2 separate regions of the Homo sapiens genome follow, and region 1 is linked to region 2. Evidence: fine-mapped expression QTL. A gene starts in region 2. The other region holds a variant in brackets. All regions are shown on one strand. Distances are from middle to middle. Region 1 overlaps MLF1 (myeloid leukemia factor 1). Region 2 holds the start of MLF1-DT (MLF1 divergent transcript).

What was found. PIP is the estimated chance that this variant, and not a neighbour inherited with it, causes the effect. A credible set is the group of variants that fine-mapping cannot tell apart.
Region 1: its variant is the best candidate, but not a certain one, in a credible set for the expression of MLF1-DT in testis (GTEx, PIP 0.71).

The regions. Positions count from the first base shown.
Region 1 is chr3:158,588,564-158,593,903 of GRCh38, forward strand. It overlaps MLF1 (myeloid leukemia factor 1), which reads left to right. Exons shown (of 8, transcript NM_001369783.1): 2 at 3,871-4,018; 3 at 4,819-4,863. Among named protein-coding and RNA genes, the nearest start is that of MLF1, 20 kb to the left of the region's middle. The variant GT/G (reference allele first, on the strand shown) is at 3,283.
Region 2 is chr3:158,568,493-158,573,878 of GRCh38, forward strand. MLF1-DT (MLF1 divergent transcript) reads right to left here and starts at 2,574. Exons shown (of 5, transcript NR_104147.1): 1 at 1,679-2,574. MLF1 (myeloid leukemia factor 1) reads left to right here and starts at 2,702. Exons shown (of 8, transcript NM_001369783.1): 1 at 2,702-2,855. The coding sequence starts at 2,809.

The DNA.
Region 1 (5,340 bases), 20 kb after region 2:
GCACTCCAGCCTGGGCAAGAGAGCGAGACTCCGTCTCAAAAAAAAAAAAAAAAAAAAAAAAGCAGAAAAAAACTGCCCTCATTCTAAGTCATCAGTTTTGTTGCTTTCATCTAAAGACAGGAAAATGAACTACAAATCTACAAAAAGTTTATACGTGTGTTTCTGCATCATAAAAAACAGATATTTATAGATATTCGCAAAATTTTGAGACCACATTCAGGATGGCCTCAATTAAGACATAAGCTTCTATGGCATAAACAAACCTCATTTGAGGATGTTGTTTCTCAGACATACAGGTGGTCTTACTCTGCAGCAGCTGAAACTGAAGCACAAGAAGCCCTTGGAACTATCATCAGGACATGTAAGTCCCATGTACTAAAATACTTGGGCCAGAGAAAACCAAGTATAGTTTAAATAGGAGTTTCCCCTCCCCTAAAATCCAAAGTCACTAAGGAGGAACTTCAAGACTGCAGGCATTGGTTGCAGTGGAGATTTTTCTCTGTGTAGCAAGCACCAAGGTGAGCAGAGCCTTTAATTAAGAATAGTTAGTAATTTTGCCAAGAAATGGTAGGGGGACCATCTGATATATAGGATGGTTCAAATTCCATAAACATTATTTATTTATTTATTTATTTTGAATTTTTGTATTTTTTTTTATTTTATTTTGAGACGGAGTCTCACCCTATTGCCTAGGCTGGAGTGCAATGGCATGATCTTGGCTCATCACAACCTCCACTTCCCGGGTTTAAGTGATTCTCCTGCCTCAGCCTCCAGAGTAGCTGGGATTACAGGCACCTACCACCACACCCAGCTAATTTTTGTACTTTTAGTAGAAACGGGGTTTCACCATGTTGGCCAGGCTCTTCTCAAGCTCTTGACTTCGTGATCCACCCACCTCGGCCTCCCAAAGTGCTGGGATTACAGGCATGAGCCACCGCGCCCAGCCCTCCATAAACATTTATAATGTATACTGTGTGTCAAGCACAGAGGTTGGTAATATGAATGAATAAAGATACAGTTCCTACTCTAGAAGAACTTATACTCTAAAAGAGGAGTGAGACTTTTGTATATTTTAAAATTAAAATTAAAAAACTTGTATTAGTTTCCTATTGCTTCTATAACAAATTACCACATATTTAGAGACTTAAAACAACAAATCATCTTATGGTGGAGATCAGAAGTCCAAAATGGGTTTCCCTGGGCTAAAATCAAGGTGTTGGCAGGGCTACATTCCTTCTGGAGTTTATGGGGGTGAATCTGTTTCCTTGTCTTTTCTAGCGTCTAGATACTGCTGTGTTCCTTGGCTTCTGGCCTCTTCCTCCATTTTTAAAGCCAGCAGTGTAGCATCTTCTGATTATGACACTACTATCTCCTTCTCATAAGGACCCTTGTGATTACATTGGGCCCACTGGGATAATCCAGGATAATCTTCCCATCTCAAAATCCTTATACACATTAGCAAAATGTGGTAAAAACTGAAGACCTAACAAAGATTCATGGTTGTGTGGCTGAATATATTCATGTTAAGAGAATGAAAAAGGCAAGTCCAAGACTGGGAAAAAATTTAAAACCTGTATCTGATAAAAGTCTGTGTCCAGAATATATAAAGAACTCTTATAACCTGATTTTTAAAAATGGGGGAAGTATTTGAAAAGACGGTTCTATCAAAGAACATACATGAATGACAAATAATACAAAATAAAACTACAATGAGATGTTATGACCCTACCACTCAAATGGCTACAGTTAAACATTGACTATCCTATATTTCACCAAGAATGCAGTGCAACTGGAACTCTCAGTTACAGTTTTCATAAAATTTACATACTCTTCTAATACAAGCCATCAGTCCTTGCTCTGAGGTGTTTACTTAAGTCAAATTATGTATACACAAAGACTAGTACATAAATATTCATAGTAGCTTTATTCATAATAGCCAAAAACTAAAAACAGTTTTGTGATTATGATACTGATATATGTATGAACTTAGCAATAAAACTGAATGAACTGAAATAGAGAACAACATGGATGAATCAAAGAAGCATTATGCTAAGGGAAAGAAGCTAGACACAAAAGATGACATACTATGTGATTCCATTATATGAAATCTGGAGAAGACCAAACTATAATGACAGAAAGCCTATTCATGGTAACTAGGGCTAGGAGCAGGTAATTATCTGCAAAGAGACGAGGAAGCTTTTTGGAATGATAGAAATGTTCTACATCTTAATTATGGTGGAGGTTATGACTGCACTTTTTAAAATTCATCAAACTGTACAACAAAATTGGTAAATTTCGTTGAATGTAAATTATGCCTAAACAAGGCTGAATGAAAACATCTGTCTATACATACAAGCACAAATCCAGTTAAGCAGTTTGCTAATCTTAAACTCACACTTGGAACAATTATGCTTTTTTTAACCTCCAAGGTAATGTGTGAATAAATCTGAGCTCTTTTGGAATAGGTTTATGTATACAAATACTATGAAATTCAGAGGAAAAGCTCTTTCTACTTGGACTTATGAGCAGAAGACAGAATTTTTGAGCTTCCTCCTTTGAGCTTCCTCCTTTGAGCTGGAGTTGCAAGGAAAATTTCTTTTTTTTTTTTTTTTTTGAGACAGAGTCTGGCTCTGTCACCCCGTCTGGAGTGCAATGGTGCAATCTTGGCTCACTGCAACTTCTGCCTCCCGGGTTCAAGCAATTCTCCTGCCTCAGCCTCCGGAGTAGCTGGGATTATAGGCGTACGTCACCACACCCGGCTAATTTTTGTATTTTTAGTAGAGATGGGGTTTTACCATGTTGGCCAGGCTGGTCTTGAACTCCCGACCTCAAGCAATCCACCTGACTCAGCCTCCCAAAGTGCGGGGATTACAGGCATGAGGCACCACGCCTGGCCAAGAAAAAATTTTAAAAACTTTCTAGCTTCTTTATGATGACATCAGAGGATTGGAATTAGAAGGGGGAAGGGTGACCTAAGAAGAATAACTGAAGTGGAGAATCTGAAAGGAGGCCAGACTATTGGAGAGGGAGTTCCACTGGGCTGCAGGAAAGCATAAGATTGCCTTGGTAAAGTGAGCTCCAATCATGGTGTACCTTAAGTTCTAGAACGAGGAATAAGGAATTGATTAGTGGGTCAGTAACTGTCCAACTGGAACAAAGTTGGGAAACCACTGTGATAAGGTAAAAAAAAAAAATTTAGGTTCTTTAATGAGACTTGTGATGAAAGGGTAAATATCAGATTATAGTGTTGGTATTTTTATGCAATATGGGATAAATAAAGAT[GT/G]TTTTTTTATTATGCATTAAATGAATTATATTGGATAACAGTAACAGGTTTTCATTAATTTTATTTATAACTACAGATGCTTCTCAACTTAACGATAAGATTACATTCCAATGAACCCATCGCAAATTGAAAATATTATACATCAAAATGCATTTAATACACTTAACCTACCGAGTATCATCAGAACATACACATTAGTTTACAGTTGGGCAACATCATCTAACATAAAGCCTACTTTATTATAAAGTGTTGAATGTCTCATGTAATTTATTGAATACTATACTGAAAGTGAAAACCAGCATGGCTGTATGGATCATTGAAGTACTGTTTCTCCTGAATGTGGAGTGCTTTCATACCACAGTAAAGTCAAAAAACCTTAACTTAAACCATTGTAAGTAGGGAACCATCTAATAATGGATCTTTATGAGATAATTCTATTCTATTTATGAATAAAATAGAGTTCTCTTCTACTCTTCTTTTATCTAACAAACATATTAGCCCAAAATAATTATTTGTAATATTTACCTGCCTACTTACTATTTAAACTCCAACACTGAATCTTTCATGATTATGTATATTTTCAACAGTGAGTCCATTCTTGCACACCGAGAAAATATGCGACAGATGATAAGAAGTTTTTCTGAACCCTTTGGAAGAGACTTGCTCAGTATCTCTGATGGTAGAGGGAGAGCTCATAATCGTAGAGGACATAATGATGGTGAAGATTCTTTGACTGTAAGTTCTTTTTTTTAAGACAGTTAGTGAGAAGGCCCTGTAGGAATTTGAAGAAAAGTATTACAGAAGTATATATCTATAATGATAGGATATGACTAATATTCTTGTTCTAGAAATCACTATTATATAAAAGGGGGGACCTTTGGAAAGGTGAATCCTGAACAGTGACTTGTCAGCTATATGGAATTTCACTGTGCTACCAAAACTGTTAGGTCCATAGAAGCATATATTAGAAGCAAAACTTAAACCATTATTTTTTATATTTATGTATACATTTCTCACCTTATAACTTCCTCTGATATCTGAAATTAGAACAGGCAAGGAAATATCCTTTCTCTCCCATACTCATTGTTTTAATACTTGAAAATAGTATCAAAAGCTACAAAGGATTGTCTTTATTGGACCAGGAAACACTGATCTTCTATATGGTTACGTATGGACCTTCAAAGCTTAGATTAACCTTTGCTTGTATCTCAAAAGCCTTACAACTGAAATATATTTTCATATGTCTTGCCTTAGAGCAAAGCTAGAGGTTACAAACATACTCAACTAAAAATTAAAAAAAAAACAGGATATTTATATATTGTAACCATTTTCTTTTTTGCCTCTTTTATTTCTTTTGCTTTTTCAGCCTCATGAATGATAGTTCTAAGATAACAAGCCCTCAGGGGTTTCTATAAAGATGAATCTCAGCAATTGAAATGTAGCAATTTGAAATTCAGTAAACATTTAATTGGTAAATTGAGAAACTTCTATATAATAAATGTCATAATCAAATGAATTGGATATTATTTTTCCAGGCAACGAGTTGTTCTCTTGTGCCTTTTGGCGATTTTGGTGGTATGGTTCGTATCTTAAGACACAAATCATTTTAGCAATATTTTCTGACAAATATTTATTTTTCATTAACTCAAGCTGACTGAATTGGCATGCAGCCTCACTTCCATAATGGCTTTTTAATGTTTGTACTGAAAACCTCTGTTTCAAGTATCAGACTTACCTTAGAAAGTTTAGGCACATGTTTCCTGAAGTAAGTCATTTCAACATATATAAAATTCATCTTCAAAAATAAAAAGTAGATTTTATTGAATGAATATTTGCTTGATTTACAAAAGGGATCCTCATAGTTGTGTTTGAAAGTTGGGGACTTCCACATGCTTATGATTACTTTCCAAAAGGTTTTTTAAAAAGTACTAAACTGTAGATAGATAAGCACAACGTTTGGAAAAGCACAGATTAACTGCTTTCTCTAGGATTTTGTTGCCACCTTGCCCAGGCAGCTTTTTCTTGTCTGTTCTTAAGAATGGCCACTCTGCAACCAG
Region 2 (5,386 bases):
AGGCATATGAGTAGGACTGTACATTATATACACCAGGCAAATGCTACTTTAGCACTGCCCTGGAATGCTTTTCCACTAGACATCCACTTCCTTCCTGTGGGTCTTTGCTCAAATTCCCCTTAGTGAGGCGTACACAAAACTTGCTATTTATAATTGCACCTCTCCATACTCCTTACCCTGATCAGCTTTTCTCCCTAACACTTATCACCTTACAATATACTATTTTCTATTTTGTTTATTTTGAGTCTGTCCTTACAAGAACATAAACTCCGGGAAGGCAGAGATTTTTGTCCGTTTTGTTCAATGATGCCTAAGGTCGTAGATCAGTCCCCAACACTGGGTAGTCACTCAATAAATATTTGTAGAATTGAATTTATGTGATGTGAATATATTCCCACTGAATTTTGTACTTTTTAGTTTGGGTCCATTTAGCTTGTCAGCATGATTTTGAAAAATGATTACCCGCTTTCATCCTGCATCTTTAAGTATGACTCATCACTCACATACCATATAACCAGCACTCACAGAGGAAAGCTCCAGGTACCCAGCTCAGTTCAATTACTAGCTGTGTGAACCTTGGCAATTTATTCAGCTTCTCTGTGTCTTGAATGCATCATCTATACATGGGGATAAAAGCCATCTCTACTCCATAAAACTGCTAATGAGGATTCAATGAGGTAATGCATATGGAGTGCCTACAACAGTGCCTGGCACACATTCAATAAATATTAGCTATTATGATTATATTTACAGCCAAGTCCAGGACCCTCTCCTCTCAGTCCTGTTCTGCATCTCTATTCCTCCCATGCTGGAGTATTCATTCTCTCCTGACCCACGCTTTCTTTCATTTCCACCTCTTACCCATCAGTTCTGAAAATGATGTCAAGGTCTCTTCAGTGCCAACTCTGCTCTGCCCTCCTTTTTTTTTTTTTTTGCATTTGTCATTAGATCCAAACTGCTTTCACAAGGTTCAGCTAATTCCCTGACTAACCTGTGCCTGGACTAAAGCTTTTATAACAATGTGATTCTAAAAAAGTTCCCACAGAAACTAGAGGGTAACATTACAAATTTACTTGGCCTTAATCCAGAACTATTTTAACACCATCTTTTATCACATAACTTACTCCATTTCAAGTTTTTTTTTAAGTGTGGCCTCCTTCACATCTTGTGCTTATACTATTTTAAAGAGAAAAACAATTTAAGGTCTTATAAAACAATTTTGTTTGCCTTGAAATTTATTTAGAAATTTTCGAAATTTTGTGTATATGTTCTCTGAGCTTTATTCTGAGTCCAGAGGAAAAGAAAATATCCTCTTTCCTGGATGGGCTGTGCCATCTCATCTTGGGCTGTGAAGTCTGCCCTACCCCATGCCACCAGTCTCAGGGGAAGGAAGCTGCCAGAGAACTTGGCTAAAAAAGGGGGATGGGGAGTAAAAGATCCAAACGATTAAATTTCCAGCTCTCAAAATAACCCCTGACTACTCCTGTCACCTCCAAATCAGGGCTTGCACACTTCTTCATGCTGGCAAAGTGCCACCCCTCTGGCCTGATCCCAGGGGGCCCTGATGAGCTATGGACGCCCCTTTATCTCTGCAAGACAGCCACGTAGAGAAGCTGGGGAGCTCACTGAATTAAGGGTGGACATGCAAGATGTATTTTCTCTTTTCTTATACTCTTACCATTCTTCTCCTTAATCTCTCTTCTGTCTTCCCCTCCATCTGTCTCCAGGCTCCTGAAAGGCCCCGTGATAGTGTTTTCTAAAACTTAGTAATTTGAGTACCACTATCACGATGTTCCTCTCCCCTGCTCTGCCTACCCCTCCGCCCCACCATATCCAAATTCCACCTGTTCTATTTGATAGCTTACTTTTTCACTTAAAAATGCAAAATCTAGCTCTTGATGTATATCACTGATTTAAATTTAAAATCAGTTTCCTTGCCATAAATAGAAAGCTCCCTGATAAATGTAATGCAAATAAAAACATATAGTAGTGGAATTTTAGTTGGATATGGCTGCTTGCTGCAGGCCTGTGCCTGAAACCTGCTGTTAGGTTAAGAAATGCTGGAGAAGTGTTAAAAACATATCAGCATCGCAGTGAGACTTGATCTTTGAAAGAGAGACACAGAAGGACAACCGAAAAGAGAGCAGCTTTCTCAAGAGGTAAATAAGTTTGTTGAAATCTGATAGGCTTCATCCCATTTCCTTCAACAACTGAGTACACTATTTGCTAACTGTACTAAAAAACGTTTTGCACATTTTTTCTTATTATTTGCTCACAGCTTTTGACTACCAGAGAATGTTTCGGATACAGGACTAATTCCTGTGGATGACAGAATGCGACCGTTGAATGGGACATTGGGTGTCATCTGGTCCAAATCTTGACCCCTTTTCATTTTCCCCGAAAGAAAGACTTGCGGCTCGGAACCGAGGGCGGCATGCCCAAGGTCACAGAAAGGGTGGTCTAATGTTTTGGTTCCTGCAGCCCAGAGAACAAGCTATCCCATCCCACAGGAGCCTTGGCGAAAAGCTCCCCGGCCGGCGCAAGGCCAGACTTCTCGCCTCCACTGTGTTGATTGCGGTTGCCAGGGCAGCGGCGCATTGCTCCCCGCCTCGTCCTGGTGACGTCACAGAGCAATGTCCAATGGGAAAGCAGCTCGGTGTCACGCACCTCCTATCCCGGCGGGCACCGCCTGCGCCGCGGCGAGTGAGGCGTCGTCCGTACTGGAGGCTAGCTCTTGTCGCGGCCGCGGCGAGTTAACATCGTTTTTCCAATCTGTCCGCGGCTGCCGCCACCCAAGACAGAGCCAGAATGTTCAGGATGCTGAACAGCAGTTTTGAGGATGACCCCTTCTTCTCGTGAGTTACGGGAGCCAGGAGTCCGGGGTCGCGCGGGAATTAAGGTATCGAGGGGAGCTATTTTAAGGGAAAAGAGCGAGTTTTAGAGGGCGAGAGAGAATTCGGAGTAACTCTGGAGGCGGTTTGAAGGAGACGAGGATTTGGAGGCCTGGGAGGGAAGAGAGAGGAGGATTTAGGGGTGTGTGAGACAGGGAAGAGACGGATTTGGGCGCATGAGGTGGAGAGAGGAGGGTTTGGACGCGTGAGGTAGGCGGAGGGAAGTTTGGGGGCGTGAGGTGTGGGGAGGAGAGTTAAGGCTGGGAGTGGGGGGAGAAGAGTTGAGGCCGGGAGGTGGGGGGAGGAGAATTGAGGGCATGAGGTGGGGAGAAGAGGTTGAGGGCGTGAGGTGAGGGAAGGGTTTGGGAGCATGAGGTGGGAGGGAGGAGGGTTGAGGGCGTGAGGTGAGGGGAAGGGTTGAGGGTGTGAGGTGAGGGGAAGGGTTGAGGGCGTGAGGTGAGGGGAAGGGTTGAGGGCGTGAGGTGAGGGGAAGGGTTGAGGGCGTGAGGTGGGGGAAGGGTTTGAAAGCGTGAGGTGGGGGGAGGAGGGTTGAGGCTGTGAGGTGGGGGGAGGGTTTGGGAGCGTGGGGTGGGAGGAGGAGGGTTTGGGGGAGTAAGGTGGAGGGGGGAGGGTTGAGGGTGTGAGATGGACGAAGGAGGATTTGGGGGTGTGAGGCGTTTGGAGGAGGGTTGAGGGCGTGAGGTGGGGGGAGGGTTTGGGAGCATGAGGTGTGGGGGAGAGTTGAAGGTGTGAGGTGTAGGAGGAGGGTTGAGGACGTGAGGTGGGAGGAGGATTTGGGAGCATGAGGTGTGGGGGAGGGTTGAGGGTGTGAGGTGAGGGGAAGGAGGGTTTTGGACCGCGAGGTGGGGGGAGGAGGGTTGAGGGCGTGAGGTGGGGGGACGGTTTGGGAGCATGAGGTGCAGGGGAGAGTTAAGAGCTTGAAGTGCAGGGACGAGGGTTGAGGGCGTGAGTTGGTGGGGAGGGTTTGGGAGTATGAAGTGCAGGGGAGGATTGAGGGCATGAGTTGGTGGGGATGGTTTGGGAGCGTGAGGTGGCGGTAAGAGGGTTGAGGGTGTGAGGTGGATGGAGGAGGATTTAGGGGCTGAGGAGGATTTGGGGGCATGAGGTGTGGGAGGAGGGTTGGGGAGAAGGGTTGAGGGCGTGAGTTGGTGGGAAGGGCTTGAGAGCATGATGTGGGAGGAGGGTTGAGGGCGTGAGGTAGGGGGAAGAGGTTTGAGGGTGAGAGGTAGTGGGACGAGGGAGGGTTGGGGCGTGAGGTGGAGGGAGGAGGGTTTGGGGGCATGAGGTGTGGGGAAGAGGGTTTAGGGGCATGAGGTGTGGGGGTAGGAGGGTTGAGGGTGTGAGGTGGACAGAGGAGAGTTGATGGCGTGCAGTGGGGGGAGGAGGGTTTGGGGGCGTGAGGTCGCAGGAGGATGGTTGAGGACGTGAGGTAGAGAGTTGAGGGCCCCAGGTAGGGGGAGGAGGATTTGGCTGCATGAGATGGAAAGAAGGCCCTTCCTCACACTCCCGGGGTGCCTGCTGCTTTCCATTTGGCCGGACTTTGGGTGCCCGTCATGGCTTCCTGTGTGCAGAGTTGGCCTTTGCAGCTTCAAGGGCTTTGCAGGTGACATAACTACCATCTCGGTGAAACTTATGGTGAGAATTATGTTCACATAATTGCAAATGGGAGCAGGGAATATTTTATAGCTCCTCTTTAAATTCCAAATAGGAACAGGTAATATTTTATAGCATGACAGTTCATTGAAAAGGGGAAGTTTTTAAAACAGCATTTTCCATGTGAGTGGGGAATGTGTCAATGAGAGCACGACAAAGTTGGAGAGTTGTGCTTTCTCTTCGAAGTTGTTGGAAGTTGCCATGCCAATTGCGCTGTTTTCTTTGCTCGCTTTGTTACAGAGCTAACCTTGTTTGTGAAGGGACTCCGCTTTCTGTCAAAACTAGAAATAGGACAGGGAAGCTGATGGGGCGGGGCGGGGGGAGGGGGGCGGGAGGAGGGCGGCGGGGGGGGGGGGGTGTGTATTTAACACCTCAGGTAAGCAAGTGCCATTCGTTGCCTTTGAAGGTTCCCAGTGAAGTAATGTGATGCCCTAGAAAGAAGGCATCCAGAAATTGGTTTCACTATTATTTATTTTTGAGTTGTGGGATTTTTTTTCCTTAATTCTAACTTTGGCCATTGTTACAAACACATTGACATAGTCTAGTTGTATCCCTAAGAGGGGAAATTTGTAATACTTTTTAGCCTAAGTGTTTTTTGCCAGTTTGAATTTTGATTTCAAGTCTAGTTTATTTTGATCCCTTAAATTTTCTAGGTTTGCAATTTGGAGAGCATTTTTTAAAAAGGTCTTAAAATAAGAGTTTATTGCACATATTTTTCAAACAATATCTGTGGGGGGTGTGTTGTGCGTCTGTGTTTGTTTGTTTGAGACAGGGTCTCACTGTGTTGCCCAGGCTAGAGTGCAGTGGGTTGCTCTCGGCTC